4 linked regions of the Homo sapiens genome follow. The protein of the gene in region 1 purifies or fractionates together with the protein of each later gene. This does not show direct contact. Each region holds a gene or a part of one and is shown in the gene's direction. Other genes may lie near its edges.

Region 1 (6,761 bases):
ATTTAAAAAGCAAAAAATAGGCTGGGCATGGTGGCTCATGCCTGTAATCCCAGCACTTTGGAAAGCCGAGGCGGGCATATTGCTTGAGCTCAGGAATTCCAGACCAGCCTGGGCAACATGACGAAACCCCATCTCTACAGAAAATATAAAAACTAGCCAGGCATGGTGGCGTGTGCCTGTAGTCCCAGCTACTGGGGAGGCTGAAGGGGGAGGATTGCTTGAGCTTAGGAGGCTACAGTGAGATCTTGTCACTGCACTCCAGCTTGAATGACAGAACGAGACCCTGTCTCAAAAAATAAAATGAATTTTTAAAAAAGTATTTCCCAGGCCTCACTGTAGAACAATGGTTCCCAAATTTTGCTGCATGTTACAGCAACCTGGCAAGCCTTTTTTTTTTTTTTAAACGGGAAAAAACCCACCTCCTTCGAAGCTTTTAAAAGTCATGATTCTAGTGAACAGTAGTGAGAACTATTGCCCTAAAGCGTGTCTACCAGATGTGTGGGCAATGGATGAACATCACTTGAGAACTTGTTAAAAATATAGACTCTCAGGCTCTACTAATCAGAGTCTGCACTTTAAACAGAACCCTCAGGTGATTTGAAACACACTTTGTTTCCAGAAGCACTGACCTGGACGTTTTTTTTTTTCTTGAGAGGGAGTCTCTGTCGCCCAGGCTGGAGTGCCGTGGCGCAATCTCAGTTCGCTGCAAGCTCCACCTTCCGGGTTCACGCCATTCTCCTGCCTCAGCCTCCCGAGTAGCTGGGACTACAGGTGCCCGCCACCACGCCCAGCTAATTTTTTTTTTTTTTTGTATTTTAGTAGAGACAGGGTTTCACCATGTTAGCCAGGATGGTCTCAATCTCCTGACCTCATGATCTGCCTGCCTTGGCCTACCAAAGTGCTGGGATTACAGGCGTGAGCCACCGCAACCGGCTGACTTTTTAAATCTAAAAGGATGAGGGACATATATTTAAAAGATCCACATTTATTTCAAATAAGCACTTCCATTTGGGCACAGTGTCTCACACTTGTAATCCTAGCATTTTGGGAAGCCGATGGGGGAGGATTGCTTGAGTCCAAGACCAGCCTGGGCAACAGAGTGAGACGACATCTCTACAAAAAATCAAAGAAATTAGCCGGACATTGTGGCGTGTTCCTGTGGTCCTAGCTACTCTGGAGGCTGAGGCAGGGGAGAATCACTTGAGCCCAGGAGTTTAGAGTTGCAGTGAGCCATGGCACCAACACACTCCTGCCTGAGTAATGCAGCGAGACCCCATCTCAAAAAAAAAAAAAACACCGCCAACAACAAATAACCACTTCCCAGTTAAGCAGCAATCCAAGTATTGCAATTTAGTTTTTAGATGCAGCCACTTGCTGGCTGTATGATCTTGGACAGGTAACTGCTGTGAGCATGTTGCTTCTGTGAAATTGAACAAATGATAATCCTAAGGTTGTTAAATTTAACGTAAGGTTGTTACATTTAAAATTAACTAATACAAGTAAAGTATATTACATATGTATAGGTTTATTTACATTTGTAGGCTACTTCAGACATCTTCAAAGTCAGAGTCCTTATTTTGCCTTTTAGAGGTGCTAGATAGTGAAGAAAAGATGAACTTTGTAATTAAGTTGGATGTTCAAATGGTAACTACTTTTTAAAAATAAGGGTTTTGATTTAACTGGTAATACTTTGGCTTTTTTCTAGTCCCTTACCCCAGGATATGCTTAAATCTTTTATTTATTTTTTGAGACAAGGTCTCAACTCTGTCACCACGCTGGAGTACACTGGCATATGGATCATGGCTCACCGCAGCCTTGACCTCCTGGGCGCAGGTTATCCACCTCAGCTTCCCGAGTGGCTGGACTACAGGCGTGTGCCACCACATCCAGCTAATTTTTATATTTTTTGTAGAGATGGGTTTTCGTCATGTTGCCCAGAATGGTCTTGAACTCTTGGGCTCAAGCAATCCTCCTGACTCAGCCTCCCAAAGTGCTGGGATTACAGGTCTGAGCCACCACACCCAGCCTTAAATTTTTACCTATTCCTTCATCCTCTCACTAGCTTCTATTCTTACCACATCTGCTTTATCTTCCTCTATATAAAAATGACTTCAAACTTCTCAAAATCTGTCCCCATGAAATGCCTTTAGCTTTAATTTCTTCTAGCAAGTAGTCTCTGGTTTACTTCCCTAACTTTTTATCTTCTAATTCTGCATAAATTTTTCCTTTATCTTATATGGCAAGATTTTGTCTGTCTAGAATATGGATAGGGACTACAATTTGTCCCTTACTCTGTATGTTAAGATGTTTAATAAATTGTGGGAAATGGACTTCATGTGACAGTTACGCTAAAGTCTTATTTTTAAAAAATATTAAAATGTTTTCCCCTTCCAGACTCCAAAAAACAAAGCTACAATCTTCAAGTTATGCAGCATCTGCCTCTACCTGCCACAGGAACAGCTCACCCACTGGGCAGTTGGCACCATAGAGGATCACCTCCGTCCTTATATGCCAGAGTAGAGTACTGACCAGCAAAATGGAGAAGATCAGAGAATGCAGCAGCAGTTTTTTTTCTTGTTTTCTTACCACTTTATTCTTTCAGAGTTTAAAGAAAATGGACTCATGCACAGAACACTATGCATTTTGAAACTTGTTCATCCTGGATTTTTTTAAATCATTTTTATCTCAGAACTTAAACAAAAATTAGATGTCGTGCACGGACTGTGTGAAAGAAGATGCTTTGCATATTTGCTGCACTGCATCAGTATCTTACTAAAAATGTGAAATGAAAGGACTATTGTACACTGAAATGCTTAAATGTATCTGAAAGCACAAGGTGATACTCATTTTTATGGTCTTCCCATTTGTGCTGGTTTTTGCCTCTTTGACATCTGTCATCAGTATTTAGAGGGTGAGAAGTGAATGTAACAGGTATAAATAACATTTTTAAAAACAATAACTTTGCTATAATCACAGTTGTTCCAGAGCACTGTCAGATACATTCTAATGACCAGAACTGGTTTAAAAAAAGAAAATACAACCATGGGAAAGAAATCTTAAATGAAAAACGCATCTCATTGTAGGCATTTTTGCCTCATATTTTACTGGGCCATGTTTGTTTCCTGGTACTCATGTATTTTTTTTTTCCAGATCTCTTTCCCCAAGTTGCTATTGTAAGAGTATTCTGCTGCGTGTGGATGCAGTTATACACATTAAAGCAGATCTGGAGTCTGAAGTAGCTATAAAGCAGCTATAAAACAGAAATACATGCATAGCTGCAGAAACCATGATAGGTAGAGGACTTTTCTTTTGGTTTTGTTTTGTTTTGTTTTGTTTTGTTTTTGGTTTTACAGAGAAGAGATTTTTATTACAAAGAAAAAAATTCCAGTGAATTGTGCAGAAATGCTGGTTTTTACACCATCCTAAAGAAAAACTTTACAAGGGTGTTTTGGAGTAGAAAAAAGGTTATAAAGTTGGAATCTTAAATTGTAAAATTAACCATTGAGTGTCAAAGTTCTAAAAGCAGAACTCATTTTGTGCAATGAACATAAGGAAAGACTACTGTATAGGTTTTTTTTTTTTTCTCCTTTTAAATGAAGAAAAGCTTTGCTTAAGGGTTGCATACTTTTATTGGAGTAAATCTGAATGATCCTACTCCTTTGGAGTAAAACTAGTGCTTACCAGTTTCCAATTGTATTTAGCTTCTGGTTGGAATTTGAAAAAAAAAGAAAAAAAGAAAAAGAAAACCTAAATAAAATAGGTGAAAGTTCCCTGACTATTCAGGTGAATACACAAAGTTTGAAGTGTTAACTTTTTCTTTCCATTTCACTGATGTTACTGGTCACCTTAGAGAATTATTTCATAGTCTGTGGCTAAATAGTAAATTCAGAAGAAAAATACCTGGCAATTGAGTGTGTAACTTCAACAAGAACAGGAATCAAGAACATACTGTCAGCTTTCAACAGTTAGCAACCTGGCCTTATGCCTTGCTTCATGGGAAAGGGCCATTCTTAAATTTCAAAATGCTTTCATGTGTCCTCTTATTTAAAAATTAGAATCTATTTGAAATAACATTTTGAATGTTTATTATAACCAGGTACTCTTCTAAGCTCTTGTCTTAACCTCTCAACCTTTGGTGGAAATAGATGCAGAGGTTAAGTAACTTGCTCAAGCTCAGATCATAAGTAGTGGAGGATTTAAAACCAGGCTGGCTGGCTCTTAAGGCCTATGCTCTTAATTTACCATGTTGAATTAATTTACCATATTGAATTACACTTATGTTCACCAAGTTAGGCATTTTGGCAGCCATTGTTTACGTTTTTATTTTGGAATAATTTAGAAAAGTTACCAGAGTAATATGAAAGCTGTTGTGTAATCTTTACCCTCATTTTTATTATTTTGCCACATTTTTTTCATTTTCTCTGTACACTTATACCTGTGAGCTATTTGAGTTTGTTGCACACTTTGTGCTTCCTTACCCCTTCCTTAGTACTTCGGCATATGTTCCAAGTACAAGAATATTTCATATAACTAGAGTAAAATTACCAAACTCAGGGAATGTTGATACTCTTTATCATCCATATTCGTTTTGTTGTCCCAGTATCCTTGGTAGCTTGTTTTAGATCCCCCCCTCTAGAGTACAGGATCATTGAATTTAGTTGTTCTCAGTTGTCTTTAATGTGGAACAGTTCCTTAGCCTTTATGTGTTCCATGACCTCTATGTTTTTTGGAGTACAGGGCAATTTTTCTTGTAAATTGTTACTCATTTTGCATTTGAATTGTTTATTCATGCTTAACGCCCTTCTCAAGTATACTCTCCATCTGCTCTTCATTGATGTTACTTTTGAGCGCCTGGTCAAGGTGTCCTGGTTTTGCCCTATGTGTGGTACTTACTACTAGCAATCTCTGGGAAGCAATGTGCAAATACCCTGTTCCTTTATCAGGAGCTCCCTTGGCGATTCTTTCCAGACTAAAACCCAAACCAGTCTTTAACTATGATGGTTACAAAATAGTGATTTTCCAAATCTAATGCTTTGTCCATTTACAGCATTTGTTGTAAGAGAGTGTTCTATCTCTGCCATTTATTATCTACCTAAACACTATGGCCTCATATTTTTTCCCTCCAAATCATAATTTGCATGCCTTTATTATTTTGAGCATCTCCTTTCATGCATAAGATACTGTAACCTTTCTGTCCCAGCCTCAAGCCCTGGAGTCAGCTGTTTCTCCAAGGAGCCCAGCTTCCTTTTAGTGGGAAATACTAGAAGTAAACATCTGGGACTCCTGTATGCTCACTGCTGCTATTGCTACTGTGGAGTCTTCTGCCCTTTCACAGTGGACAGATCAGCAGGCGATCTAATGTAGGGAAAGGATTTGTCTTTAACTGTTAACTTGACTTAAATTTACTTAAAGCTGCATCCTTTTTAGTCTTTAGTCATGAAATGTTCATTAAGATTCCCTGACAGAAATCAAGTAAGAGTCAGCTGGGTGCAGTGGTTCACACCTGTAAGTCCAGTACTTGGGGGGCCAAGGCAGGAGGATTGCTTGAGCCTAGGAGTTTGAGACGAGGCTGGGCAACAGTGAGACCTTGTTTCTACAAAAATAAAATTAGGCGTGGTGGCACACGCCTGTAGTTCCAGCTACTCAGGAGACTGAGGTGGAAGAATGTCTTGAGCCTGGGATTTTGAGGCTATGGGAAGCTGTGATTGTATCACTCCAGCCTGAGTGACAGAAGCTGTCTCAGAGTGCCACAGTCAACTGAACTTGGAGACTTCTGAGAAGTGAACTTGGTCTTTTCAATACTATAGACTTGGAGGTTTGAGATCTGCATGGTTTTATTCTCGGTACAAGAAAAGGGGCTAGTAGCATGCTTTTTTTCTTCCCCCTCTATTGGACCATTTCCTGTAACACTAACATGCTTAGCCTCAAACTTTTCTTGAGGTCTTTTTTAGGCATATGGCTCAATCTATTTTATTTTTCAATATGGGCTGTAGTTCATATATTTTGAAGTTTCATAATCTTAAAAAAAGGAAATGCAAGTGTAGCTTGGCATTTTAGATCTGGGAAGGACCTAAGATTCGCTAAGGATTGGCCATTGCTGTGGTCTCCATGTGTTTCCCCTAAATTTGTATGTTAAAATCCCAACCCCCAAGGTGATATTAGCAGGTGGGGGTCTTTGGGAAGTTATTAGATCACGAGGGCAGAACCCTCAAGATTGGAGTAAGTGCCCTTACAAAAGAGAACCCAGGCTGGGCACATTGGCTCACACCTGTAATCCCAGCACTTTGGGGGGCCAAGGCAGGCGGATCACCTGAGGTCACGAGTTCGAGACCAGCCTGGCCAACATGGTGAACCCTGTTTCTACAAAAAACTACAAAAATTAGCTAGGTGTGATGGCACATGCCTATAGTCCCAGCTACTTGGGAGGCTGAGGCAGGAGAATCACTTGAACCCAGGGGGCAGAGATTGCAGTGAGCCGAGATCGTGCTGCTGTACTCCAGCCTGGGCAACAGAGCGAGACTCCATTTCAAAAACGAGAACCCAGAGGGCTCACTTGCCCCTTCCACCACACAGTGAGAAGGCACCATCTATGAGCCAGGAAGCGGGCCCTCACCTAACAGGATCTGCTGGGCCTTGACCCAGGACTTTCCAGCTTCTAGAACCATGAAAAATTTCTGTTGTTCCTAGCAGCCCAAACAGAATTAGAACCATTAATTTCTATTTCTCCTTTAGCTTAACACTGGACTTTAGTTTTAATCTTA
Region 2 (7,864 bases), on another chromosome or scaffold:
AATGTGGTGGAGGAAGTCACCAAAGGACACATACCATGAGGACGCATGCAAGGAGGAGAAAACCTGAGAGGTGTCCTGGCTTAATAAGAACCCGCTCTGGAGGGAATTTGTCCATTCCTATGAGAATTAATCCAGTCTTGTGAGAGCAAGAACTCATTCAGCACCTTGAGAAAAGCACCAAGCAATTCAGGAGGGATCCGCCTCCATACCCAGACACCTCCCACTAGCCCCACCTCCAACAGTGCCACATGGAGATCAAATTTCAACATGAATTTTGTTGGAGACAAACATATAAACCACAGCACTTTAAAAATCAAAACAGTGCGTTGTACCTTGCAGGTGCCTGAGTAACATTAAAAGAATAAAAGTTTGGTAGGAAAGACAGTTGACAGCTTGCAGTTTAACTTCACATTTGGAGTATCTTTATATAAGTCTGAATGAGATCAGCAATCACACAGAATAGTAGATTTCACATCTAAGTTTAATCACTGATCTCAGCACCATTCAACAAATAGTCTTTTAATGCCTACTCTATGCTGGGGCTATACTAGACACTTGAGGCTTGATTTAGGATAACTTTATATATGCCATAATTTTCTAAAATTTTCTAAAGTAAAAATATACAGGGCCCTTTTTTTCTCCTTCACTCTACATTCAAATCTGTGATTCTTGCTAATAACCTGTGTCAGAATTACCTTTTACATCTTAATGTTCTCAGATTAATTTTGCAATAGTTTAGTATTTTTGTTTGGTTTTCTTTATAGGCCCTCTTCGCTCGCTTATTACTTCAAGATCCAGGCAACCACTTAATTAACATGACTTCTTCTACAACGCTAAATCTCTCTGCTGATCGAGATGCAGGAGAGAGGCACATTTTTTGTTACCTTTACTCCTGCTTCCAGAGAGCCAAGGAAGAGGTAAAGGAATAATCCCCATTGAATACTGTATTGTCCTCTTGGGTATGACTTCAGCATGTGGGCCAGAGTTGGATCAGTCTTTATTTCAATTTATATATGTCATAGTATGTCTAGAAGTGAATATCAGGGACACTAAAGCTTTTATATCAATTTATATATGTCATAGTATGTTTAGAACACTGGATATCAGATGCACTAAAGCTTTAGTCTCCTTTCCGTATCTTGGGGTCCACCCTTCTCCCCAGTTAACCAATGCCTCCTATTCTCTCTAAAACCTCTTTAGAAATCACATCCTTAAAAAAATCTCATGAGGCTGGGCACAGTGGCTCACTCCTGTAATCCCAGCACTTTGGGAGGCCGATGCAGGCGGATCACATGAGGCCAGGAGTTCGAGACCAGCCTGGCCAACATGGCAAAACCTTTACTGAAAATACAAAAATTAGCCGGGCATGGTGGCACACATTTATAATCCCAGCTACTCAGGAGGCTGAGGCAGGAGAATCACTTGAACCTGGGAGGTGGAGGTTGCAGTGAGCTGAGATCACACCACTGCACTCCAGCCTGGGTGACAGAGCGAGACTCTGTCTCAAAAATCAGAAAAGGGCTCATGAATTCATTTCCACTGAGATGTAAATATTAGAGTAGGCTAAGCCGGATATTTCCAGGTTTGGAATTTTAAATAGGCAGATAGATGATTCCTTAAGCCAAGGAAGGAATCTCTAATTAATTTTCAAGCATCCACAGGAGACCAGTATGTCTCTTCTATTGTATTCACTATGTCTACTTTCGTTCCAGATTACAGAGTTAGACTATTCCCTCTTTTCTTCATGCTGTTTGCAGATTACCAAAGTTCCAGAGAACCTGCTACCCTTTGCAGTGCAGTGCAGAAACCTCACTGTGTCCAATACCCGAACAGTTCTTCTCACCCCAGAGATCTATGTTGACCAAAACATCCATGAGCAACTGGTAGATTTGATGTTAGAAGCCATCCAGGGAGCCCGTGAGTACATGAACAAGATCTGTAAGCTTCTACATTTTGATTTTCAGATTTAAAATTTCACTAATTGCATTAGAAAGTCTCAGAGCCATTATGGTTCTGGTATAAATTAAGGAGGAGGGCTCACATCTTGATCTTTGAGGTTGAGTACCAATAGAATAAAGCTGGGCATGGTAGCACACCCCTGTAGTCCCATCTACTCTGGAGGCTGAGGCAGAAGGATCCCTTGAGCCCAGGAGTTTGAGGCTGTAGTGTGCTATAATCACACCTGTGAATAGCCACTACACTCCAGGCTGAGCAAAAAAACAAGACCCCCAGCTCTAAAAAAAAAAAAAAAAGAATTATTGAAAGTAAAGAGCTAGTGTGTAAAGGCATATAAAAATTCTTGTGCCCTCCTTTCTCTCTCATTTGTCTTCTGTTAGATTTTGAAGATGTAACTGAGTTTCTGGAAGAGGTCATTGAAGCCTTGATATTGGATGAGGAAGTTAGAACATTTCCAGAAGTCATGATTCCAGTGTTTGATATTTTATTGGGCCGAATAAAAGATCTAGAGCTCTGTCAGATCCTTTTGTATGCATATCTGGATATTCTTCTCTATTTCACTAGGCAAAAAGATATGGCAAAGGTAGGTCTGAAAGATGATATGTATTCAGTTGAGCTAGATGTGTAATACATGATGCTTCCCTATCCTGAAGACACTATAATACTACCTATAAAATAAGAAAAAGATAGCTTGGTTGTTGTATCAACTTAACTGTTTTGAGGCCCTCCCACCCCATCACCTTATCTCACCATGAAGATGAATAAGCAGAACTTGTCTTCTCTTACAGGTTTTTGTAGAATACATTCAGCCCAAGGACCCTACCAATGGGCAAATGTACCAGAAGACCTTGCTGGGAGTAATTCTGAGTATCTCCTGCTTATTAAAGACTCCGGGTGTTGTAGAAAATCATGGCTACTTTTTGAATCCATCTCGTTCCAGCCCCCAGGAGATCAAAGTACAGGAGGCCAACATCCATCAGGTGGAACTGTTTACCAGGGTATCCCAGCCCCCTGATCTTAAAAGAGTTTTCTCAGAAAGCAGATACAGATAAGGCTGCTCAAGCCTCTCTGGGAAAGCAAATTGATCTAGTTGGCTTTTACATCACATAAATAAATTAAAACTGGGCATGGTAGCTCAAGCCTGTAATCCCGGCACTTTGGGAGGCCAAGGTGGGAGGATCGCTTGAGCCCAGGAGTTCAATTTGAAACCAGCCTAGGCAACACAGTGAGACCCCCATGTCTACAAAAAAATACAAAACTTAGGTGGGCATGGTGGCAAGCATCTGTAGTCCCACCTACTCGGGAGGCTGAGGTGGGAGGATCACTTGAGCCTGGGAGGTCAAGACTTCAGTAAGCCATGATTGCATCATCACGCTCCGGCCTGGATGACAGAAGAAGACTCTGTCTCAAAAAAAAAAAATCCCCTCTTTGTAGCATATGCTAAGAACAGCACGTGTGGGGTAAGAATGAGCTGCTGCTACTCATTACCCTTTGCTGTAGCACTGCTACAGCTACTTCTCCCCAACCCTCATTTTTCTCACTGAGCTATAACTTTAGCTCTGAAAATCTTTTGACTGAACTCTAGCTTATAAACCCAGTTTTTCTTCCTTTTCGTGTCTCCACCTATGCCCTCTCTTTGGGCTTCTTCACATAAATTATAGTAGAGGTCTGGCCAACATGAGGCATTGAATGATTGAATTGGGGATAGTTTAAGTCCCCTAATCATTAATCATTACAACTCTCTAAGGCAAGGCATGGCAAACTAGCAGTGGCCAAATCTGGCCTGCCACCTGTTTTTGTAAATAAAGGTTTATTGAACATAGCCATGCGCATTAGTATATGTATTGTTTCTGGTTTGAATTCATACTACAGTGATAGAGTTGAATAATTGCTACAGACACTGTATGGCAAGTAATGCCAGAAATCCTTATTGTCTAGCCCTTTGCAGAAAAAATTTACAGACCTGTGCTCTAATACCGTGTAATGCCATCTGCAGTTGGGCAGCTGATCAGAAAATCTCTTATAAGTGCCCAGAAATATATTTTAAAATCAAATTAGGGGATGAGGCACAGAGAGTGAGGGGAAAGATTAGGATTAGCATATTTTTGGAAACTGCCAGTTGCTAAGGTTTGGGAATAAAAACTATTAGGATTGTGAAACGTTCTGTGGTTGTGTTTTCTGGTTGAACAGTTCATGGCTCAGTTCCACGAAAAGATCTACCAGATGCTGAAGAACTTACTCCAGCTCTCTCCAGAAACCAAACACTGTATCTTGTCCTGGCTTGGAAACTGTTTGCATGCAAATGCAGGCCGCACCAAGATTTGGGCCAATCAGATGCCAGAAATCTTTTTCCAAATGTATGCCTCAGATGCTTTCTTTCTGAATCTGGGTGCTGCTCTCCTGAAGCTATGCCAGCCATTTTGCAAACCCAGATCCTCTCGGCTCCTCACCTTTAATCCCACATACTGTGCCCTCAAGGAGTTGAATGATGAAGAACGAAAAATTAAAAATGTACACATGAGAGGTAGGAGAGAACCAGGCTTCTCAAAACTGTGTGTGTGTGTGTGTGTAACGTGTAAAGCATTCACTCCCTTATCCTTTTTCACAGAGTTCCTTTCTCAAAAAAAGATGAGGCAGAAACGAGCTATTTCGATTTTTTTTTCTTTTTTTTTGAGATGGAGTCTTACTCTGTCACTCAGGCTGTAGTGCAGTGACGCTATCTTGGCTCACCGCAATCTCTGCCTCCCGTGTTCCAGCGATTCTCCTGCCTCAGCCTCCCGAGTAGCTGGGACTACAGGCACGCGCCACCACGCCCAGCTAATTTTGTGTATTTTTAATAGAGACGGAGTTTCACCATGTTGGCCAGGATAGTCTCGATCTCTTGACCTCATGATCCATCCGCCTCAGCCTCTCAAAGTGCTGGGATTACAGGCGTGAGCCACCACGCCCAGCCAGAATTTTTAAAAGACAGATGTTTGAGAGAAAAAAAAAAACACCTGGTAGCTTTTAAATGTTGTACTTTAGTGAGACCTTCTCTCTGGATTTGGCAGCCTTGCATATTCATTCATTCATAGTTTATAAAAATGAATAAAGCAGAGTCCTCATCCTTTTTGAACTCAGGCTCCAGAAGGCAGATATATTAACTGATAATTATAATATGGTATAGGGCTAAGCTATGGGAGCACAGAGGAGGGAGTAAATAATCAATTCTGCAGAAGTTGGAGGTCTTCATAGCTGAGTCTTGAGAGACAAGTTAGGTTTTACCAGGCAAAGAAGCAAGAGGGTCCCTTTATACAGAGAGAAAAGCAAGTGTAAAGGTACAAAGCTATGGAAAATCTTGACTAAGGAATGGTGAGAGGCTCAATGTGGCTAGGGCAAGGGGTAGATGGGGTTGAGTTGGGGAGGAAATGGATCAAGGGAGGAAGATAGGTGGGGCTGGATTGGAGAAAACAGTACAGAGAAATGAAGAGAAAATAAATGACTCACAGTCCTACCATTCAAAGTGAAATCACTCTTAATTTTGGTATATTTCATTCCAGTTTTATAATTCTAATTGTAAACATGATAACTGCTCAAAAGCAAATAATCAAATTCAGAAAAGCACAAAATAAATACAAATGATCTATTGCCTATCACTTGAAACAATCTATAGTAGTATTCCTTTTAATTTTTGGTGATTTCATGAAAAAGATTTAACTGTATTTCTGTAGACGGTGAGAAACCAAAAGATATATTCAGACAAAGAACTAATATGACAAGATATGTTTTTAAGAAGATATCACTGCTAACAGTATGGAAATTGAATGAGTGTAAGAGGAGACTGGAGACCAAGACATTTACCCTCTTTTTTTTTTTTAACTTCTTTGAGGTTTGGACAAAGAAACCTGTTTGATCCCAGCTGTGCAGGAGCCGAAGTTTCCACAGAACTACAACCTTGTAACAGAGAACCTTGCTCTGACAGAGTACACCTTGTACTTGGGATTTCACAGGTAACTCCTCTGATGTCATTAGGAAAAAACAGTTTAGTTGTGTTGATAACTAGAAGGTAGAAATTGAGTCTTTGGCCAGGCACAGTAGCTCACATCTTTAATCTCAGGATTTTGGGAGGCCAAGGCAGAAGGATTGCTTGAGGCCAGAAGTTTAAGACCACCAACCTGGGCAAGAAAGTGAGACCCCCATCTCTACCAAAAAAAAAAAATTAGCCAGGCATGGTGGCATATGCTTGTGGTCTTAGCTGCTTCAGAGGCTGAGGCAGGAGGATTGCTCTAGCCGAAGAGTTGGAGGCCACAGTGAGCTATGATTGTGCAACTGTACTCCATCCTGGGTGACAGAGTGATAACCTGTTTCTTAAAAAAAAAAGAGAGGAAGAGTCTTACAGATATAATCTGAGCTTATTCTAAAGGTTCACATTAGAATCTAATAGAAAAGGGGCATTGTATGAATTTACTTGTGTTTCATGAATCAGCTTTGTCCAGATTCCTTAAATTTGTTTTTAACTTTTATCGTTGTCGTTGTTGTTGAAATGGATTTTCGCTCTTGTCACCTTGGCTGGAGTACAGTGGCACATTCTCTGCTCACTGCAACCTCCGCCTCCTGGGTTCAAGCAATTCTTCTGCCTCATCCTCCCAAGTAGCTGGGATTACAGGCATGCACCACCATGCCCAGCTGATTTTGTATTTTTTTAGTAGAGATGGGGTTTCGCTGTGTTGGCCAGGCTGGTCTCGAACTCCTGACCTCAGGTGATCCACCACCTTGGCCTCCCAAAGTGCTGGGATTACAGGCATGAGCCACTGTGCCTGGCCTGTTTTTTAACTTTTGACCTGTTAAACTTTAAAAATTAAATCACTGTCTTCCTATTGTGATCTGGGAAAGTGGAATTGTTTTCATTTTATATTGCACTTTCTGCTCTTAAATTTTCATTACTGGCCGGGTGTGGTGGCTCATGCCTGTAATCCTTTGCACTTTGGGAGGCCGAGGCAGGCAGATCACTTGAGCCCAGGAGTTTGAGACCAGCCTGGGCAACATGGCAAAACCCCGTCTCTACAAAATATACAAAAATTAGCTGGGCATGGTGGCGTGTGCCTGTAGTGTCAGCTACTCACGAGGCTGAGGTGGGAGGATCTCTTGAGCCTGGGATGTTGAGACTGCAGTGAGCCGAGATTGCGCCACTGCACTCCAGCCTGGGCAACATAGTGAAACCCTGTCTCAAAAAAAAAAAAAAAAATTTCATTACTACTCCTGGTGATAAAAGATGAAGTTCAGCCGGGCGCAGTGGCTCATGCCTATAATCCCAGCACTTTGGGAGGCTGAGGCAGGCAGATCACAAGGTCAGGAGATCAAGACCGTCCTAGCTAACATGGTGAAACCCCGTCTCTACTAAAAATACAAAAAATTAGCCCAGCTTGGTGGTACGCGCCTGTAGTCCCAGCTACTCGGGAGGTTGAAGAAGGAGAATCGCTTGAACCTGGGAGGCGGAGGTTGCAGTGAGCCGAGATGGTGTCACTGCACTCCAGCCTAGGCGACAGGGCGAGAATCTGTCTCAAAAAAAAAAATTAATTAAAAAAAAGAAAAAGACCAAGTTCTACTCTACAGATAGAGACAAAAGTGGCAAATATTAAGGAAATGTTTATAAGGGAGCTAATGAGATCAATAGGACCACAAAAGACATTAGATAAAGAAGATTCTAGAAATGTTAAGATTTTAGAACTAGAATGTATGACTTCCAAAAACAGTTCTGGTTCTGGCTATTCATTATTCTGTAATTTGTTTTCCTCTGATTTAGCTGATTATGACAGGTATAAGTAGAGGAAGAAAACAGCAACTCAGTCATAGAAAGGGACACTAAGAATAGCAATTTTTAATGCCTTCTCAAGATACCTGAATTGATGCAGAGCATTTTTCAAAACTA
Region 3 (7,864 bases), on another chromosome or scaffold:
TTAAGGTTTGAGCTTAGTTTAGAATAATGCCTTACCTGGTAATAATTTTTTTTTTTTTTTTTTTTTTTTTTTTGAGACAGAGTCTCACTCTGTCGCCAGGCTGGAGTGCAGTGGCATGATCTCGGCTCACTGCAACCTCCACCTCCCCAGTTCAAACGATTCTCCTTCCTCAGCCTCCCGAGTAGCTTGGACTAGCAGGCGTGTGCTACCACGCCAGGCTATTTTTTGTATTTTTAGTAGACACGAGGTTTCACCATGTTGGCTAGGATGGTCTCGATCTCTTGACCTCGTGATACACTCGCCTCGTCCTCCCAAAGTGCTGGGATTACAGGCATGAGCAACTGTGCCCGGCCTAATTTTTAAAATACTACAAATCAGTTTAAACAATGCAGCTGTTGCTTAAACCTCAAACTGTTAAACTCTCAGAATTTTAGAAATAGAGCTTTAATCTTTGAAGCTCTGTTTATAGAAGATTTTCACTTCAGTGTCTCTGAAATTTTGAGAGTAAATGATTGCCTAACACAAAGCTCTTGAATTAACATGTTATAGTCCTGTGAGAGTGCTCATGTCATTCTTTTTTACAAGAGCTGTGGGTGTACCATATTTTCCTTCACAAGTTGTGTGTCCTAAATTTACAATTTAGCAGTCAGTATAGAAGGGTATGTCAGTTGTCAGAGCTCACTCCCATTGATAGAAGGAAGCAAATACGGGCAGTCAAGAAAGTGTCACCCAATTTAAATTAGTAGCCAGCATTGTTGATACTTCTTGGATTTGGCCCCTCTGCTAAGCACTTTACAGAGATTATCTTGTCTAGTCCCGTCAGAACCCTATAAGGTAGATAGGTGTCATTAGTAAAAATGGCTTGTATTTTACTTAGGAGTGTGTTTTTTGTACTTGTATGAAAGTACAGATATATTTACATCTGAGACTTTATTGAAAATGAAATATTGAAATCACACATGTATGACTTGGTTTGGGAATAACTGGTTGTATTTGGTTCCCCATACCATTTTCTGGTCATCTATCTGTATGCTGTCCATCTGTTTGTCACCTGGTATCACAGGAAATACCAGACTTTTCTTGTTTTTTGTAATTAGGTAAAGGCAAAATAATAGCAAAAGCTGAGAGCTAAAGCAGTGAATTGAACAGCACCCAATATAGCCTGTTAATTTGCACACTGGTTTATAATGGAGCTATTGCAGCAGTGAGAGGCTTCTGAGGATAATCGGGTTGTACTACACTCATTCATTAAGCATATTTTTCTGTACCATCTGTGCCAGGCCCTTTTCAGTGGGCTAAGGTGGTGAGCTACTTAGACAAGGACCCTGCTTCCAGAGGCCTTGAGAGCATCTAGTCCAAGATATTGCAGTTAAGAGAACTGGATTAGAGGGAGGCAGCACAGAGTAGCGGCAAGGCCACGGGCTTTGGAAATTGAGAAGTCTGGGTTTGGATCCACACTCTGCCATACGCTAATGGTTACCTGGGGGCAGGTTTCTAAATTTTCTGGACTTCTGTTTCAACTGTAAATATAGTCGTTAGTCTGTTGTAAGGATTAGGGATTTTATAGTACTTGGTACATAGCTTGTCTTCGTTGGGATTACGCTCACACTTGACAGTACTTCTAGAGGGTGGAGTCAGAGTTGCTGTGTTCAGCATTCCTGGGGTCCCATTCTCATAGGGCCCCTGGGACTTGTAGAGCTCCAGGCTCTGGTAAAATGTGCACTGGTAAATTAAAGAATACAAATCTATGGTTAATTAATACTGAATTGGGTACTTGTTTAGTGATAAATGGCACTGATTTATGATTGGTTTAGGTTGGTATTGAAAATAATTTGTTTTTTTAAATAAAAATTATCAAATGATCTAGAATGCAAGTAGTTAAGAGAATTTAACAGTCTTAGTTTTATTTCAAATAATTAGAAATATTGTCATAACACTAGATTTTGTATTCTTAGCAACTGACTAGGTTCTGAGAGCTCTCTGCACACCTGGTTTTATGAGCCACGGCATTGCGCCTTGCTTCAGTTCCCTTGAATTAGCTTGGGTGTTCTTTAGAAAAGCTGCCAATCTGGCATTGCGGTGATCTTGGCTTACCTCCAGCGCTGGCTCAGAGTAAAGTTAAGCATAAGTAGTCGTGCCAGGCTTTGTAGACGCACACAGTACACAAGTAGACCAAGAAGAGAGATTAGGAAAAGTTATCAATGAGGAATTGAGGCATGATAACAAATAGAGGTTTCCAAAAATATAACCTTCCTTACTTTATCTGGAATTGACTGGTTTTCAGCTAAAACAAGGAGGGATTTTAAAAGGTACCCGATTAATGTAATTGTGTATGCATCTATGGACAGCTTGCTGTTTCCAGGTGTTTGCAGCCTCATGGTGGTGGTTCATTTTAATACCAGTTTCTTTCGTTCCCATAGAAAATCTTCTAGTCTTCTACCTTTATTAATATTTTGTTGATTCTTTGTTTTTATGGAAATATGCAGATTTGAGTGTACATTTTATTTTTGATCCCTATTATGTCCCTACATGGGAATTATCCCTAAGTGGGCATTATTAAAGCCACTTTATGTCAATTTTAGGTCTTATAAGTTTAAAGCTTTGCTTCTTTCTTTCTTATTTTAGAAGTGACAGTGTGTTCGTGTTCTTCTGAGGTGTCAGCAAAGTTTGTTCTACATGCAGTCCAGCTTGTGAAGCAAAGAGCATATCGAAGCCATGAATTCTATAAGTTTTGTTCTCTTCCAGAGAAAGGAACACTGACTGAAGCTTTTCCTGTCCTAGTAAGTTTAATTATAGTTTATAATCCTAACACAATTTATTTGCCTTTTTGGTATGGGCTAAGACTAAGTATTTGCATTTGATTTTATAGTTTGTATTTAGCATGTTGGGATTATATATTTTTTTAATGCCAAAAAAATGAAGTAGAAAAATAGAAAATCTAATCAGGGTACTTGAAATCAAGTTGGAGGTAATTATGGCTGTAATTCTTGAATAGCATAGTCAAAGAAACATACTAGTCTGGTAGATTCTCGTGCCTTGTAGTTAGGACCCTGATTTAGATTATTCTTTGTTGTACTATAGATTAATTTCTTTAAGACCTGTTTGCTTGTCACTTAACTTATTTTACTAATGCTGTGTTGTTAAGCTATGAGGCTAATTTGCATTATAGGAAAACTGCTACTGCTTCATGTCTAAGTTATCTCAGATGATGGCAGACTGCATTCTTATCTGTGGTGTTGGAAATGATGACTAGTCTTTCTTCCATAGAAGGTGAAAGTACTGATGTTCTTCCTTCAATGCGCTCCTTTGTGTTTTCAGTTGGTTCTGGGATTTTCCCAGTATCTCTTGGTTTCTGGTTACTTTCATTTGTGTTCTTCCATGGATCAGTGTTGCTTCATCTTTTTAAACTTTTAAATCACTGATTACTAGAAAACTTACTTTAAAACTCAGTGCTAAGAGCAGGTGTTTTTTTTTCCTTTTCCTTATCTTTATTTTTTAATAGGGAGAAAGATGTAAATGACCATAATGTCATTTTGTTTTGGTTGCCAGGTAGCTGTGAGCCCAAACTCAATTGTGCCTATTGAGTATGCCTTACAAAGTTGAAGTATCTTTATTGTGTCGTTATACTTGATTATTTTTCTTTTGGTCCTAATTTTTTATTTCACTTCGAAATAATAAAATCACATTTGCTTTATTATATGTGCTTTCAGAAGCTGCCTAGGATCTTTTATGACAAGAAGCATAGGGTTATGAGTAAATAACTATGTATATTTAAATACACCATATCTCTGCAAATGATTTGTCTAACTCTTACTTAGCATAGCTGTTAAAATTTTTGAGTTTTCTTGCTACAAACAGGAAAAGTTTGAAAACAGAATTGCTCTGAAACAGCTAGTATTTATATTCTGTAATTTGAGAAAAATAAGAAAAGAGATATATTTTATTTACTTTTATTTGCAGGGTGGAAAAGCAATTGAATTTTGCATTGCTCGTTGGTGGGCAAGTCTCAGTGATGTCAACATTGATTATACCATTTCTTTCCATGGGATAGTGTGTACTGCTCCTCAGTTAAACATTGTAAGTTCCACAACATTTTCATGATTTTTAATGTCAGTTACTTGTGTTACTGGAGAGTAACTTCATTGGTTAGATTTAAACTTTAATGAGGGGAAATTACCTGTGGTTCTGAAGATAGCAGTAGGCTTTGTGTGTGGGTACTTATAAACTTTATATTGGACACATTTATTTTAGGTACAAAATATTGCTTATTTTTAGTAAAGTTTGAGAAAGTAATTTGAGAAATCCTTTGTAGCATGCATCGGAAGGAATCAACCGCTTTGATGTTCAGTCCTCCTTGAAATACGAAGATCTGGCTCCCTGCATAACTTTGAAGAACTGGGTCCAAACACTGCGGTATCATTCAATGTTTTAGGAACTACAGATATTGAATATAGATTGGGGGGATCTCTTACACTCTTAAAAAAGGGCCTTTTTTTTTTTTAATCCACCTGCATGCTAGAGGTGAGAATTTTATCCTTGCCAGCAGATCTCTGCAAGGCAGCCCCAGTATCAGCTTCTAGCTTCACTGTCCCACCTGACCAGCAAAGTCAAGGATGGTGGATAGCCGATCCCAGTCATGACTAGTTAGGATCAGTGGACATTAACCTTTTTATTTCTTGCTGTAAAATAGCAAGTTAACATTCTCTCTGATATTATTTTGTGAATCCTAATGCAGTCATTTTTAGAAACTGCAATACCATTAGAAACTGTTTATTAAATGGTAGAAACTTAAGTACTGTAGCCTGCTGTTTGTGCCTCAGCAGCTCCCCTTACAAAAGCAGGGCACCTTGACCTGTGTTCACATACTCACTGTGTTATAAAGATACCTGGTTTCTTTTGTTTAATCTGACCTTAACTCATCGGCATGAAGCCTAGTCTTAAGTGTATTAAAATAACCAATTAGGGACAATAGTCAGTGACACGGTGATGTCTAAAGATATACTGCTTCCTAGAATTATCAATAAAAATTAAAACATCCAGCTTTTGAAGATATATCCAACTTATATCATCCTGATGTTTTCTTCCTAAATCTAAAAAATTGGAGCTAAATTTAGAGTAGATTATGTTTCACTGACATTTTAAACTATATTTAAAACTTACTCTTCAGTGTCAGTTTTCTCCTTTATAAAATCTGTACATTAGCAACTTCCTTCAGAGGACTACTAAAAATATGAAATAACATTCCCTCGGCCAGGAGGAGGGCTGAGTGTGGCCCCTGCCATCTGGTGAGCAGCAGGGGTCTGGGGAGGTCTGTGCTGCACACAACACAGTACTGTCAACAGTTTGCACAAGGGGTACAAATCAGAACCTGTCTTGCAACACTTTTAGTTGTCACCCTAGTGTTAGGATTTGGTTGTATTGAGAGCTGTTTGTTCACATTTGAAAATGTTTTTGCCATGAAAAGATTGCCTTTGTCATATTTATTGCAAAATCTAAACTGTATGTATTGATATGATTCAATCAAATAATTATGTAAGTTAGTGATTAAAATATTGTAGAGTATACTGAAAAGGATAGCTCTCAGGAAGGTTCATCTGCACTTTTTGCAATATGTTACAGATTTTGTTGCATATGGTTTTATTTGTCTCATTCAATGAACTCTTGAATCAAACCAGTTATGTAGTTTCCTCATTACAGCCCAGTGAGTGCAAAAACAAAACCTTTAGGATCAAGAGATGTTTTGCCAAATAACCGTCAACTTTATGAGATGGTCCTGACATATAACTTTCATCAAGTAAGTGTTTGCCTAGTAAAGTGTACCCTTAGGATGAACTTTTGTGTTTTATTTATGATTCATAGAATCAAAAATGGAAGGACAGTGTATATGGTATATATAAAAAACAGAATCAAGTGATTAACAGTTAATTTGGAATTACTCTTTAGGAAATTATAATTTGTAATTAAATACCATTCAGTTGTAAAGTCACAAAATGTAATTGAGTGGTGACCTAGCCTTAAGCCTTAGTTTATAAAATCACTGATCACTGTCCATTGGTGCCATCTGACCCAGGGGTGATTAGATGGCTCAGAAATACCATCTGCCTTCTGGTGATGGTGCTGGGCCTGATTGCTTTCTGCGAAGAAGGCACTGGAACAGGGAAAGGTCAGAGTAGCTCCCAGGTGGGATGGGTGGCAAAAGTAATGGAGGCCAGTGTAAATGCTGGACCAAAGAATTGTTGTAAGATCAATGAGATTTCAATAAAACTGTTACTGAAACACACATCAGTTTGGTTATAATGTTAGGGAAATGGATTGGTTTCAGTGAATTTTCACATTTCAGTTTTATAAAGTAATTAGAGGTCCTGAAGTATGTATATGTTGCTTTATTAATGAATACACATAGCCAGGTGTGTATTTTTAAAAGTTTGTAAGAGAGCAGTGACTTTTATAAGTGCTAAAATACTGTGTGTTCTATATTTTCAAAATTTTTTACCACAAGTATTTTTAATGTTTTTTAAATGAAAAAGTCTCATGTCAATAACAATATTAAAAATTTGTATCAGAAATTATATGCAAATCATGCCAAGTAATCTTTTTTGTTTTTTAATAGCCCAAGAGTGGGGAAGTAACTCCAAGCTGCCCACTACTTTGTGAACTATTATATGAATCTGAATTTGACAGCCAACTGTGGATTATTTTTGACCAGAACAAAAGACAGATGGGTTCAGGCGATGCCTATCCACATCAGGTATAAAATTGATGGTGATTTTTAGAATTAACGGAAGCTGTTTCCTGAACTAACAAAATCCTGGTTTCTTGTTATGGTAATGTTCATACTTTAAAAAAAACAAAAATTATAGCTTTGTGTTTAGTACTTTTGCAAACTGTGAGAGCCTGTTTGTTGTAGTCGGTGAAGAACAGATGGTGTCAACTATTTCACCATGTAGTTGTGCTGAATTAGAGGAGGACAAGGGTGAACCTTGCCCACACTGGCCAGCATAACTTTTGGTGTGTGGTGTTTCTCCTTCCTATACACTGATTCTACCTATCTGAAGGTAGAATCATCAAAGCATGCATCAAAGAGATGCGAGCCTCTTGAAATGATCCTAAGTCTGAGGGGGCTAAAGAGAGCACTGCAGCAGTGGCCGCATGTCTTCAGTTCATTTGTACTTTTAAATTTACTACCTCGTTGGACAACTCTGTAATGAGCACTTACTACATACCAGGCACTATGCTTTGTGCTGTTTTATTGAAGGGAAAAATCACATAATTTATAGACATTTTATCCCTTAGATATTACTGCAAAGAAATGAGATATTTCCTGTAATATGTATAATTTTATGTTGACAAATGAAAATAATTTATGGAGATTTTTTTCAATTAGTTGTTAAAGGAATGGTATCGATTTTCCTCAAAGCAAGTAGCAGTCACATCTCATTACAGACTGGCCTACTGCAGTGCTATTATTTTGGTTACTTTTTAAATCTCAGAAAAAGTGGCTGACACAGGATACAGCATCTCTTCCTCTTGAACCTGTTAAGTGGATAATAGATTTGTATCCCTTGATCTCTATTGGTTTCCTGTTTTTTTCCTGTCTGTAATAAAGGAGTGACATTTTGGTTGTAATTTGAAGATCAGCTGGGCATGGTGGCACATGCCTGTGATCCCGTCTACTCAGGAAGCTGAGGTGGGAGGATCGCTTGAGCCCTGGAGCTCTAGGCTATGGTGCACTATGATTGCACCAGTTAACAGCCACTGCACTTCAGCCTGGGCAACATAGTGAGTCCCCCTCTCTAAAAGGAAATAAGGATTACCAGTAGTCATAAGTTACACGTGTGTGTGTGTGTGTGTGTGTGTGTGTGTG
Region 4 (7,864 bases), on another chromosome or scaffold:
GTCTCGAACTCCTGACCTCGTCATCTGCCCGCCTCAGCCTCCCAAAGTGCTGGGATTACAGGCGTGAGCCACTGCGCCTGGCCTTCTTTTTCTTTTGTTCATTTTTTTTTGAGACAGGGTTTCATTTCCGTTGCCCAGGCTGGAGTACAGTGGCGTGTTCTCAGCTCACTGCAACTTCTGCCTCTGAGGTTCAAGTGATTCTCCCACCTCAGCCTCCCAAGTAGCCAGGGCTACAGGTGCACACCACCACTCCTGGCTAGCTTTTGTTATTTTTTATAGAGAGAGGGTTTCACTGTGTTGCCCAGGCTGGTCTCAAACTCCTGGGCTCAAGTGATCCACCCACCCCAGCCTCCCAAAGTGCTAGGATTACAGGCATGAGCCACCACACCCAGCCCTCCTTTCTTATAAAGACCCTTATGATGACACTTGGCCTACCCGGATAATCCAGGGGCATCTCCCCCATTTCAACATCTTCAAGTTCATCACATCTGCAAAGTGCCTTCTGCCACATTTCCAGGTTCAGGGATTAGGATGTAAACATCTTTGAGGAGCTGTTATTCTGCCTGTCTCCTATGTTTTCTTCTAGAAGCTTTCTATTTTTAGATTTTACATTTAGATCTCTGTTTCATCTCAAGTGAATTTTTGTGTATTGTGTGAAGCAGGGGATAAGGTTTATTTTTTCTGTATCTTTTTTTTTTTTTTTTTTTTTTTTGAGATGGAGTCTCACTCTGTTGCCCAGGCTGGAGTGCAGTGGCGCGATCTCGGCTCACTGCAAGCTCCACCTCCCGGGTTCACGCCATTCTGCCTCAGCCTCCGGAGTAGCTGGGACTACAGGCACGTGCCACCATGCCCGGCTAATTTTTTGTATTTTTAGTAGAGACAGGGTTTCACTGTGTTAGCCAGGATGGTCTCGATCTCCTGACCTTGTGATCTGCCCACCTTAGCCTCCCAAAGTGCTGGGATTACAGGTGTGAGCCACCGCACCCGGCCCTTTTCTGTATCTTTTTTATATGTTTGTTGACAATGCTTATTTATTTATTTTATTTATTTTAAGACAGAGTCTCACTCTGTTGGCCAGGCTGGAGTGCAGTGGCATGATCTTGGCTCACTGCAACCTCCGCTTCCCAGACTCAAGGGATTCTCCAGCCTCAGCCTCCTGAGTAGCTGGGACTATAGGTGTGAGCCGCCATACCCGGCTAATTTTTTAAAAAATTTTTTGTAGAAATGGGGTTTCACTACATTGCCTGGCTGGTCTTGAACTCCTGAGCTTAAAGTGATCCTCCCACCTTGGCCTCCCAAAGTATTGGGATTACAGACCTGAGCCACTGCACCTGGCTGAAAATACTTTGAAAAAAAAAAAAAGACTTGCCTTTTCTCATTGAATCATTTTGACTCCTTGTTGAGAATTAATTAACCATATGTATGGGTTTATTTCTGTACTCTCTTCTCTGTTCCATTGATATGTATAGTTTTCTTTATGCCAATACCAAACTGTCTCTTTTTTTAACCATATTATTTATTTATGTATATATGTATTTATTTATTTATTTATTTATTTATTTGAGATGGGGGTCTCACTCTGTTGCTCAGGTTGGAGTACAGTGGCATGATCTCAGCTCACTGCAACCTCTGCCTCCTGGGCTCAAGTGATCCTCCCGCCTCAGCCCCCCAAGTAGCTAGTGGGAGCCATCATGCCCGGCTAATTTTTAAATATTTTTTGTAGAAATAGGGTTTCACTGTGTTGCCCAGGCTGGTCTTGAACTCCTGAGGTCAGGTGATCCACCTGCTGCGGCCTCCCAAAGTGCTAGGATTACACATGTGAGCTGCTGTGTGTACCTGGCCTACTCTTTTTTTTTTGAAACGAGGTCTCACTTTGTCACCCAGGCTGGAGTGCAGTGGCACGATCTCAGCTCACTGCAGCCTTGTCCTCCCGGGTTCAAGTGATCCTCCTTCCACAGCCCCTCAAGTAGCTGGGACTACAGGCTTGCACCACCATGCCCAACTTTGCACTAGTCAGTGTGACAAGGTGAGAAAAAGAAAAAAGAAAACTATCTTTTTTCACAGATGGCATGATTGTCTATGCAGAAAATCCCAAGAGATCTAGACAAACTACAAGGTTTAGTAAGTGAAGGTCACAAGATGAGAAGTCAATATACAAAATAAACTGTATATTACACATCACTTCTGTGGTATTCTGGCCAAAGTGTGCAACCTAAATTAATCACAAGGAAACATCAGATACTTTGTACAATAAGTGATATCTGACAAAAATCACTGACCTCTACTCTTCAAAAACATCAAAGGCACAAACCCAAAGTCACAGGAGCCTTCCTTCCTTCCATTCTCCCTCCCCTCCTTCCCTCCCTCCTTCCTTTTTTTTTTTTTTTTTTTTTTTTTTTGAGATGGAATTTTGCTCCTGTTGCCCAGGCTGGAGTGCAGTGGTGCAATCTCGGTTCACTGCAACCTCCGCCTCCCAGGTACAAACGATTCTCCATCTTAGCCTCCCAAGTAGCTCGGATTACAGGCCTGTGCCACCATGCATGGCTATTTTTTTTGTATTTAGTAGGACAGGGTTTTCCCATGTTAGTCACCAGATGATAAATGCAGCTTCCCTGTCAGCTCCAAATCAGGCCTTTTATAAACAAGTATAGTCAAGGTCAGGAAGAAAACTTCCCTTCTGTATAATTGTCTTTCTTGTTTCCTTTGCATAATCAGCTGTGCACAAAGAGAGCTATAGTTATGTTCTGTTTTTCTCAGCAAAAGGCTTTATTGTCCAATTTTATAATTTCACAGCATGTCAGTTAGAAAAGAGACTAAGTCAGTAACAAAATATACCCAACCAAAAGTGGCTGCATTCATCTTTTTTTTTTTTTTTTTTTTTTTTGAGACGGAGTCTCGCTCTATTGCCAGGCTGGAGTGCAGTGGCGCAATCTTGGCTCACTGCAACCTCCGCCTCCTGGGTTCAAGTGATTCTCCTGCCTCAGCCTCCCGAGTAGCTGGGACTACAGGCACGCGCCACCATGCCCAGCTAATTTTTTTGTATTTTTAGTAGAGATGGGGTTTCACTATGTTGGCCAGGATGGTCTCGATCTCCTGACCTCGTGATTTGCCTGCTTTGGCCTCCCAAAGTGCTGGGATTACAGGTGTGAGCCACTGTGCCCAGTCTTTTTGTTTCGTTTTTTGTTTTTTGGCAGAGTCTTGCTCCGTCACCCAGGCTGGAATGCAGTGGCACAATCTCGGCTCACCATCACCTCCAACTCCTGGGTTCAAGCGATTCTTGTGCCTCAGCCTCTCGAGTAGCTGGGATTATAGGTGCCTACCACCATGTCCAGCTAATTTTTGTATTTTTAGTAAAGACGGTGTTTCACCATGTTGGCTAGGCTGGTCTTGAACTCCTGGCCTCTTGTCCACCAGGCTTAAGTGCAATGGTGCGATCTCAGCTCACTGCAACCTCCGCCTCCTGGGTTCAAGCAATTCTCGTGCCTCAGCCTCCCGAGTAGCTGGGACAACAGGCGTCTGCCACCATGCCTGGCTTAAATTTTGTATTTTTAGTAGAGATGGGGTTTTACCATGTTGGCCAGGCTGGTATTGAACTCCTAACCTCAAATGATCCGCCTGCCTTGGCCTCCCAAAGTGCTGGGATTACAGGCGTGAGCCACCGCGCCTGGCCTCAGCTTGGGTTTTTCAATGCAGATTGCTAACATGAATTGCTACTCTCAATTCCTTGAGAGAACAGACTTGTGAGGAGTTCTCCCGAGAAGAATTTTCACCTCTTCTTTGGTGTCCCCCCAAGCTAAGGCCAAGACAGACAGGCCTCCCAGGGACTCTTTCCACAGGCTTATTTCCCCTTCATGTAACTAGTGTGGGCGTTGCCTTTGGGGAGTCCTCAGTTCTATGCAGTGTGGTGAGGATCTCTGAGATGCCACTCTCCCTTGCTTGGAGCCTAGGTTTTCTCTCTTGTTCTCTTTCACCACCACGTGCATAACCCTTAAAGATCAAGTTCTAGCTGGGTGTGGTGGCTTACACTTGTACTTCTATAGCTTTGGGAGGCTGAGGTGAGAGGATCATTTGAGGCCAGGAGTTCAGGACCAGCCTGGGCAACATAGCAAGACCATGCCTCTACAAAAAATAAAAAATTAGCCAGGTGTGGTGTCGTGCATCTCTAGACCCAGCTACTCAGAGGCCAAGGTGGGAGAATCACTTGAGACCCAGAGGTCGAGGCTGCAGTGAGCTATGATCGCACCACTGTGCTCCAGCCTGGGTGACAGAGAAAGACCCTGTCTCTTAAAAAAATAATAATAATAAATAAAATCAAGTTATTTGCTATCTGGGATCAGCACCATGACAAACTACCAACATGAGTGCTGCCGGGTCAGTCAGGGTCCTTGCCCGGAGATTAAAACCACACCAGTTATTTTAACAGATAATTTGATAGAAAGAACCAGTAACTAGGTGTTACTAGAAGACTAAGATATGAGGGAGAAGCAACCGCAGGGAGTAGCTACCACTCCCAGGGTTGGGGGAACAAAAGAAAGGAGCAGGAATTATTGAAACGTAGATGTTTGGAAACTGGGAGGTGGGGCTCCAGGAGCTGAAATTCAGATCGTTTGAGGAGGGCTTCCTCCCCCACCGGCTGCTGAGAGGGGCTGAATGAGGCTGTTTCTGGAGGTATTGGGACACTGCAAACTGGATTCATCTGCTGCTGCAGGCAGGAACCACTGCAGCAGCAGAAGCTTAACTGGGGGTGATGCTCACAGGATCTGCAATGCACGAGAAGCTGGTCCTTCCTCCCTCCTGCAGCCTTGCAAACTCTCTCTCTTGCCCCCCCTATTGGCAGAGCCTGGTCACGATCAGCTAGGGAAGCAGAAAGGTGGTTTGCCAAGTGCGGGCCCAGATCACAGAGATGAGTTGTAGAGGGTAGGTTTGAGCTGAGAAACAATCACTTAATACTTAGTGCAGCTCGCCTGACTCTCTGGATTCTGTTTTCTCATTTCCAGCCTCTAGTAATTCCCCTTGCCTTTCCGCTGACTCACCTGTGCATTTCCAAAAGGTGTTTGAATATTGTGCCAGTTTACTGAATATTCTCTGCCGGGAAAGTTCCTTAGGACATGTAGCCCGCTGTATTGCCAGATATGGAAGACTCCATGGGAGAATTTAGATAAGGGTCGCTCACATCTGGAGGATAAAGAGATCCCTCTGGGGCCTGTGTCAGGGCAGGACTGACTCAAGGCCTAGAAACAAAGGGTCTGGAGACATCTAGGCCCAAGCTACATTCTAGTGACTCCCAGTCCCCTGTGTGGGCCCTGTGCCCTCTTCCCCAGCCCCTAGAAGCTCTCATCTAAGCCAACCTGCCCTGGTTCTCATGCACTGTGGCTTCTCCCACCCAGGTCCTTCTGGTCACCTCATCTTTCATGTCCCCTTCCGAGAGCCGCAGTGGCTCAAACCCCAACCGCGTTCGCATGTTTGGGCCTGACAAGCTGGTCCGGGCAGCCGCCGAGAAGCGCTGGGACCGGGTCAAAATTGTTTGCAGCCAGCCCTACAGCAAGGTACCTAGGGTGGGAGCCAGGGTGCAGAGTCCTTGGTCCTGGGCAAGGAGGGAAATAAGGGCCAATATTGAGTCCCATAGGGCTGGGAGGAGTAGACAGCTGGTGTCCCATGGGATTATGGGGAGGCTGGGTCCCTGCGTTCCCTGAAATGGGTTTGGGATCTTTCCTGTAATGAGAAGTTTCATCTCCCGGAGGAATCTAGGAAGGGTGAACTGCAGCATCTCAGAGGGGAATCGGAGGAGGGGAACTGACTTGTTAGAGAGGTGGCCTAGTAGAGTGGGCCTAGTAGTTAACATCAGGAGATCTGGCGTCTGATTACTGAGTTCACGTCCTGGCTATACCACTTTTTAGCTGTGTGATCTTGGGCAAGTGACTTACGCTCTCTGGGCCTCCATTGCCTGATCCTTACAGGGTTGCTGTAGGTTAAGGGATGCTAAAAGCTGTGGTAACAGTGAGACTGGAGTATGTGATGATGCCACACACTAAAGGTGTGCTTCTTGCCCAGGTAACTGTCCTGGGGAGTGTTTAGCCTGTCAGCTGGCTTCTCCTTATGAGGTCGTGCAGGGACCCAGACTTCTCCTATTTTCTGGCTCTGCATCCAGCTGGCAGAGGAGAGAGCCTGGAACACTTCTGTGTTCTGGAAGTGGCACGCAGCACTCCCTCCCATTCCACAGGCAGGAGTTTGTGCATAGGGCAGTGAATTCGCTGGGACACCTAGTAGACTCTGCCAATTGCCCAAAGAGCTAATGCGTGAAAAGGGCTTGGAGCCAGACTCAGAGTTAGGGCTCAGTCATAACAGCTTAATCCTATAATTGTCATCACCATCGCCAGGGCCCCTCCTTCAACATGGGTGTTCATGAGAGGGAAGGAGCCAGGAAGAGGTTTCCCTGAGTGAAAAGGGTCTTGGGCCCTGGCCTCTGTCCTTGGGCCAGACTCCCTGACTCCCACCCCTCCTTTCCCAGGACTCCCCCTTTGGCTTGAGTTTTGTACGGTTTCATAGCCCCCCAGACAAAGATGAGGCAGAGGCCCCGTCCCAGGTAAGCTGTACCTGTCACTCCCCATGGCCTTCTCCCTGCCTCTCCACCCCCACCTGCCAGCAGCCCACCTATAATACTGACCTTGCGGGACCTTAGAAGGTGACAGTGACCAAGCTTGGCCAGTTCCGTGTGAAGGAGGAGGATGAGAGCGCCAACTCTCTGAGGCCGGGGGCTCTCTTCTTCAGCCGGATCAACAAGACATCCCCAGGTGAGCTCGGACAACGTGGGTCCTGAGTGAGTAGGGTTGAGACCTAGACTCGTGGGTCTGAGGGTAGAGGGGGCTGGGGCTCAGATTCCTGGGTCTGAGGGAGGAGGGTAGTGGAGTCCTGGACTCCTGGGTCTCAGGGTGGAGGAAGGTGGGCCTGGCCTCTTGTGTCCTGAGGGTTGAGAGGTCTGGAGGCTGGGACTCCTGGATCACTGGTGGGTTTTGGCAACAATATTCTGTGTCCCATAGATAGGAGTGAAAGGGTCTTGGGGCTCAGCCCTCTCATCCTGGATCCACTTTCTCCCTTCATAGTCACAGCCAGCGACCCAGCAGGACCTAGCTATGCAGCTGCTACCCTCCAGGCTTCTAGTGCTGCCTCCTCAGCCTCTCCAGTCTCCAGGGCCATAGGCAGCACCTCCAAGGTGAAATCATCAGACTTTGGTGGGGTGGAGGAGGAGAGAAGCTGGAGGCCTCAATCCATCCCCATCCCCTCAGCCCCAGGAGTCTCCCAAAGGGAAGAGGAAGTTGGATTTGAACCAAGAAGAAAAGAAGACCCCCAGCAAACCACCAGCCCAGCTGTCGCCATCTGTTCCCAAGAGACCTAAATGTGAGCTAACTAGATCCCTTGTTTCCACAGGGGCCTGTGCTCCTGTGTCCTAGGGGAAGCGGGGCTGGAGCCTGCTGTCCTGAATCTGAGGGAGGAAGGGCTGGGGGCCTGGACCCCTGGGTCTGAGGGAGGAGGGGCTGGGGGCCTGGATTCCTGAATCCGAGGGAGGAGGGGCTGAGGGCCTAAACCCCTGGGTCTGAGGGAGGAGGGGCTGGGAGCCTGGACCCCTGGGTCTGAGAGAGGAGGGGTTGGGGGCCTGGATCCCTGGGTCTGAGGGAGGAGGGGCTGGGGGCCTGGACTCCTGGGCCTGAGGGAGGAGGGGCTGGGGGCCTGGACTCCTGGGTCTGAGGGAGGAGGGGCTGGGGGCCTGGACCCCTGGGTCTGAGGGGGGAGGGGCTGGGGCCTGGATTGCTGGGTCTGAGGGAGGAGGGTCTGGGGCCTGGACTGCTGGGTCTGAGGGAGGAGGGGC

Evidence for each region.
Region 2: the proteins of C6orf62 (region 1) and UBE4A purify together in Homo sapiens (affinity purification with mass spectrometry; one large-scale study listed by BioGRID and IntAct). This does not show direct contact.
Region 3: the proteins of C6orf62 (region 1) and TPP2 purify together in Homo sapiens (affinity purification with mass spectrometry; one large-scale study listed by BioGRID and IntAct). This does not show direct contact.
Region 4: the proteins of C6orf62 (region 1) and XRCC1 purify together in Homo sapiens (affinity purification with mass spectrometry; one large-scale study listed by BioGRID and IntAct). This does not show direct contact.

What each region holds. Positions count from the first base shown.
Region 1 is NC_000006.12:24,701,896-24,708,656, reverse strand, and holds the end of C6orf62 (uncharacterized protein C6orf62), read left to right. Parts: intron 1-2,394; coding exon 2,395-2,520; 3' UTR 2,521-3,796; downstream 3,797-6,761.
Region 2 is NC_000011.10:118,370,750-118,378,613, forward strand, and holds part of UBE4A (ubiquitin conjugation factor E4 A), read left to right. Parts: intron 1-764; coding exon 765-917; intron 918-1,757; coding exon 1,758-1,917; coding exon of another isoform or gene 1,918-1,938; intron 1,939-2,336; coding exon 2,337-2,539; intron 2,540-2,744; coding exon 2,745-2,936; intron 2,937-4,146; coding exon 4,147-4,480; intron 4,481-5,824; coding exon 5,825-5,945; intron 5,946-7,864.
Region 3 is NC_000013.11:102,640,597-102,648,460, forward strand, and holds part of TPP2 (tripeptidyl-peptidase 2), read left to right. Parts: intron 1-2,625; coding exon 2,626-2,780; intron 2,781-3,960; coding exon 3,961-4,077; intron 4,078-4,312; coding exon 4,313-4,413; intron 4,414-5,697; coding exon 5,698-5,794; intron 5,795-6,610; coding exon 6,611-6,748; intron 6,749-7,864. UniProt on the Homo sapiens protein: Cytosolic tripeptidyl-peptidase that releases N-terminal tripeptides from polypeptides and is a component of the proteolytic cascade acting downstream of the 26S proteasome in the ubiquitin-proteasome pathway.
Region 4 is NC_000019.10:43,552,328-43,560,191, reverse strand, and holds part of XRCC1 (DNA repair protein XRCC1), read left to right. Parts: intron 1-5,387; coding exon 5,388-5,546; intron 5,547-6,508; coding exon 6,509-6,583; intron 6,584-6,679; coding exon 6,680-6,791; intron 6,792-7,100; coding exon 7,101-7,210; intron 7,211-7,283; coding exon 7,284-7,395; intron 7,396-7,864. UniProt on the Homo sapiens protein: Scaffold protein involved in DNA single-strand break repair by mediating the assembly of DNA break repair protein complexes. Negatively regulates ADP-ribosyltransferase activity of PARP1 during base-excision repair in order to prevent excessive PARP1 activity.